2 separate regions of the Homo sapiens genome follow, and region 2 is linked to region 1. The links come from fine-mapping of genetic effects on gene expression. Tissue or cell type: lung. Region 1 holds a variant in brackets; the other region holds the start of a gene. All regions are shown on one strand. Distances are from middle to middle.

Evidence for each region. PIP is the estimated chance that this variant, and not a neighbour inherited with it, causes the effect.
Region 2: it holds the start of GGH, and the variant in region 1 is fine-mapped to the expression of GGH in lung (TOPMed, PIP above 0.99).

What each region holds. Positions count from the first base shown.
Region 1 is chr8:62,915,124-62,917,808 of GRCh38, reverse strand. All of the region lies in intron 4 of NKAIN3 (sodium/potassium transporting ATPase interacting 3), which reads right to left. Among named protein-coding and RNA genes, the nearest start is that of GGH, 120 kb to the left of the region's middle. The variant G/A (reference allele first, on the strand shown) is at 1,204.
Region 2 is chr8:63,037,179-63,039,863 of GRCh38, reverse strand. GGH (gamma-glutamyl hydrolase) reads left to right here and starts at 1,058. Exons shown (of 9, transcript NM_003878.3): 1 at 1,058-1,204. The coding sequence starts at 1,096. RefSeq lists a silencer at 665-1,024.

The DNA of each region.
Region 1 (2,685 bases):
ACGATTTTTATTCCATGGAGCCAAAGACACTGCAGTTCCTAGAGGACAAAATTGTCTATGAATCTAGTCCAGTCTAAAAATACTTACTATAAGCACTTCAATAGGTATGAAAAATAGATACTTGATAGCTGCTATAGTTTATCTTCTTGTCTTTGTTAACGTTTGTTTCTACCCTTTAACCCCATTATAAAATAATACCGGGAAAAGAAACTTTTTCTGATAGTCCTGGTGTCAAAGGCTAAAGTTTCCAATGCAGAGAACAAGATATCTGGGGCTTTTGACTGCCCATGTGAATTAGGACCCTGAGCTTGTCATCCATCTCTGGACTGTCTGGACAAAGGCCAAGAAGCCCTGAGAGGGTGAGAGGTTAGGGAAAAGTTTAGGGTGAGGTCTTAGGAGAAGGACTTACAGAGAAATCTGCCAGGGTGCTGATGGTTCCTCCCACCCAGCGGGCACCTCCTCTCACCTCAAGCCAGGTGAGGGGGTGCTGCGAAAGCACTTGGGGAGCTTAACATTTCTTACATTTTGGGAAGCATGGGGCTTGGCACCCAACTCACACTTGGAAGAGTCAGAAGGCAAGAGGCTGTGTCTAGAGGGGCTTTTGGTTACAGTGTGTGGAGACAGGACTGGGTGGAATTGGCAGGGCAGGATGTGTGTGTGTGCCCTTAGCCTGGGGGTAAGGCCTCTGGAGAGATCTTCCTGTGCTGTTCTGGAGTTGGAGCCATCCCAGAGGACTTCCTGGTAGGGCAGGTGACCTCAGAAGAAGGATGGTGGTACTTTGGCTATAGAAGCCAAGTAGGGGTGCAAAGTGGCAAACCAGGGAGGCTGATCATCCGAGAAACAGGTAGGGATCCTAAAGGGGGGTGGGGTGGGATTCTGAAGAACCCCTAAAAGCACCCCACAAGAAGAAGCATGAGCGTGTGGGAGCTGTCACACTCAGAGAGTATCCCTGCCAGATTACAATGGAACCCGTCATGCTAACACCTTGTTTCCTCCTTTTCTCCCATCATTTCTCCTTCTACTTCATCCCCACGATAACGCAGAGGAACAGTGAGAGAAGTGGGGTGAGAAGAGGAGGAAGCAGTGTTGTGTTCCTTCCTCTCTGCAAATCTGCAAGTTGAAATCAGGCCCAAGCTGAGCGGGAGAGTTTTTAAGTGGATGAGAATTTGCAGTAACCTGGACTAGATATTTAATATCTCTGAG[G/A]AGCTAAAAGAGCTATAAATTCTGCTTGAAATATGATCCAAAGGGTGAGACTGAACAAAGCCGTAATGTGTACTTGAAGGGACAGTGAGAGAACAAACAAAATTGCCTTTCAACTGTATTCTACCAACCCATTCAGTAAACCAGTTACATACACAAGAAAGAAATGGTCCCTAATCCCATCACTAATAACTTTACAATAGATTTCTCTCCAATCTTTCTCTCTTGCAGTTGCTATATATCACTTATACTCTTATGACCCAAGTTAATACTCTTCATAAGCTTAATTATTAATGACTACATAAATTTGTATTATTTAAATATACTGCTATGTATTAATGTTCTATTATTGAAAGTTGTTTTCAAGTTATAAATAATATTGTGAAAAATATTAATGCTTTTCCTGAATTTTTGATGATCTGATTCCCAGAGGTAAAATTATTATTTCAGAAGTGCCATTGAATATTTTTATGACTATTTTTTACACATTATTGGTTTTTGGAAAGTTTGTATCATCTATCCTATCACAGCAGTGACTGACAATGCCTGCTTTTCCATACCATAGGAGAGTTCCACTTAAAGATACATGCCAAGAAAATAAACAAAATGGCATCTCTTCATTTATTTATTTTTGCAATAGTTCTTTTTCATCTGATGTATTTTCATATTTTATTAGCCATTTATGTTTTTTATTTTGTGAATTACCTCAGAGGTTTTTTGCTCATTTATTAACTTGATCTTGCTTTCATTAATTTATATGAGGTCTTATGGGGGAAAAAGCCTTTGCTGTATTTGTTGCAAATTTTTGTTTCTTTATGTTGGCCTGTGATAGTGATGGTTTCATAACGTCGGGACATTTTCTTACTAAACCATATGTTAGAAGGCTTTTGCCAGCAAACAACTTTCTAGTTCTTGGTGGGTTCTCCCTTAGGGGTGTGTGTGTATATGTGTATACCTGCAAGCATGCATACATGTAAATCAAGAACTCTCTTGCATTAGTTTTCGGTTGCTGCTGTAAGAGATTGCTGCAAACTTAGTGACTTAAAACAACACAAATCTTACAGTTCTGAAGGCCAGGTGTCTGAAATGGGCCTTACGAGGCTAAAATCAAGGTGTCAGCAGGGCTGTACTCCTGGAAGATCTGGCAAACTCTGTTTCCTTGCCTTTTTCAGCTACTAGAGGATGCCTGTGTTCCTTAGCTACTGATTCTGTCTCAGGCTGCCATCTCCCTGGTCCTTCCTCCCCTGCCTTCCTGTCCTACTGTTAAGGATGCTGGACACACCTGGACAACTTAGGACAATTCCTCCATGTTAAGGTCACATGATTATCAATCAATTTTATCTGCAACCTTTATTCATTCTCGTTTGCCATGTGCAATGATTTATTCACAGGTTCCAGAGATGAGGACGTGGAAATCTTTAGGGAACTGTTATTCTGCCTATCACATCTGTGAACTCATATTTAGACTCGCAGCAGGTTCTGCAC
Region 2 (2,685 bases), 120 kb before region 1:
CACTGCATTTACTCTTCTTGCAACATGCTAAAATTGTTCCTGTTGTCTCTACGAGTCACGCTTTCTGCCTTTTTTCCTTACTGAATTTAAACCTCTTGTGAAAAAGACTGTCCAATTTACGTTTTCACCCTTAATACTGAGCATTGATGTAGCAGGTTTTCAAATATTCTTGTTTTATGCTGAATTTCAGTTGGCCCTTATAGATGGAAACTTTCACTGAGTACAAGCTATATATCCATGTATTTAGGAACAATCAACAGTTTTAACGAATAGGAACCAGTCATCTTTTCTGCCCCGGTGGATAGGCTTAGTGGTGGTCGGTGGATGGCGCTGACCGCGGTTGATCAGAGGAAGCTGACGCCGTTTGCAGGCGTGGCCTGGGCGTGCCCGCTTCAAAGTAGACGCCCGGAGTTGGCCCAGTTCTGACCCTAGTGATGCGCCTGTGCGTGTGTTCCTATCGCCGTCCCGTCTTCACTTCCTACAGATGCCGCGACCCCCCAAATAGCAAGTGTGGACATTCACATTCAGGGGCACAGGCTGTCCGTACAGCGAACGTTGTCACCATTCCCGGAGATAGGGCCCCGACCTTCAAGGGGGCGGTGCGGTTGGCGCGCAGTTCTCAGGCGCCTTCTAGAATCCCCTGCCAGCCTCCCCGCTGCCTGGTTACCAAACTCGGCCGGGGACACCCAACCTCCCCTCTCGAGGACCTGGGTTGGCCAGCCCAGCTTTGTACGGGTGACTGAAGTCCACATCGACGTAACAGTTGAAAGGGAAGGACGCGGAGACCACCCGGTACCCGCCCCAGGCGTTTCCAGAGTCTCCGCTTAGGCGGCCCGTGGGGGTCGGGGTCGCGGTCGCGGTCGCGGACCGGGGACAGAGCAATGGGGCGGGCGCGCAGCGCCGGCTGCACTCCCAGAGCCTCCCACCGCCGCCCCACGGCCGCCTAGCGCGCGCCGGGACTGCATTTCCCATAGGCCCACGCTGCGGAGCACCGCCCACCCGAGTCTCACGCGAGTGCGCTGCCGCGAGGTGTCCCTGCCGCAGCCCCCGCCCGCCCGCAGAGCTTTTGAAAGGCGGCGGGAGGCGGCGAGCGCCATGGCCAGTCCGGGCTGCCTGCTGTGCGTGCTGGGCCTGCTACTCTGCGGGGCGGCGAGCCTCGAGCTGTCTAGACCCCACGGCGACACCGCCAAGAAGCCCATCATCGGTAAGGAGGCTGTGCGGGGCCGCAGCAGACGGGGAGGAGCTGGGTGTTGGCGCTGGGCGCCTCCCGCCGCCGCGCTCCAGCTGGCGCGTCCCGCCGGGAAAAACCCCCAGATGTGCTTCGCTTTTGGTGCAAGGAGGAACCCGGGCTGGGCACCATTTAGGTCGTACTGAAATGTACCTGGTTGAGGTACCTCGTTCATTCCTTTAGACTCATATGACTCTTAAAGGTGGGAGGGAGGAGGGTGCACCATGAAGAATCCTGCGGATTTTCTTTTTTTGTACACAGCTAGGAATTTCTACTAAAATAAAACATTTCCTTTTCGCACATAGTTGGGAAGTTTTACTCATTTACATCTACAAATTCTGTACATGCATTGCATTCATCAAAATGTATTGATGGCGTATTTAAAATACCAGTGCATTGTAATAGAAAATCAAGAAATTAAGGTATAACTTGGATTTTGTCATGTTCAGTAGCAGAGGACAACAGTGGCTGATATCCTAATGTGAGTTCTATTTGGTGTTAAAATGCAGCCCACAATTTTTCGTTTCCAACATATTTGTGTTTTAAAGAGGTAGTAAAATCAGTCTGTGTTACCAAAACACACATTTGAGACAGGCCCAAGGAAAGCTACCTAGGAGAAATCATCCTGGGGTTAAAATTTGCCCAAAGAAATTTGTGTGTGGACATTAAGATTAGTTTTATTTTGGCTGTAGGATTATGCCTTTCATACTATTTTTTTCTATGAATATTATCACTGTATTCTGTAACTAAACAGAAAGTAGATGAATGTTTTTTCATATAGGTAGTGCCCAGTTTTCAAATGGGTTGCTTACTAATATTTGGAACTTATTTCATAGCTGTTTAACATGGTGATTTGATTCTCCACGAATTAACTCAAGCTGTAATTAATGTAACAGGTTGCATATTGTGTGTCCAGAGAAGAGAAAAAAAAGCAGAGGGGATTCTTCCCCTTTCCTAGAATCAGGGGTAGCCCTGCGTCAAATATTTAAAAAAGGGACTTTGCTTTTGGTCACTGAGATCAGCACAACATCGTTAACTGAGTACCGACTATGTACACAATCTTGCTCTGGGAAGTGCAAAGGATTGAAAGATGACAAGCCACAAAAGTTGTGAGATGGCCTTAAATTATTGGTGGAATTTTGGTCATATTTTGAGGGACAGGGAGAACAGCTTGAGCTCTTTTCCCAGGGATGGGAAAAGTGAATATGCGTGGGCCCAGGGGAAGGGGAGATGTTGGTGGAACTCACTCTGATGTACTTCTCTTTCTGGTACCCTTGTGCTCCCATGATGCCCCATGTCTCCTTTGTGGTACCTCACCCCATGTACCCTGTACCACTCCATTTCCTATGACACTCCTAGTTCTTCGTTCCCTAGCCAAACTTTGTTATTCCTTAGTGAAGATGATCTTACCTACCAGTAAGGAGAAAAAGTTTTACTGAACAAATTTTGGCGTTTGA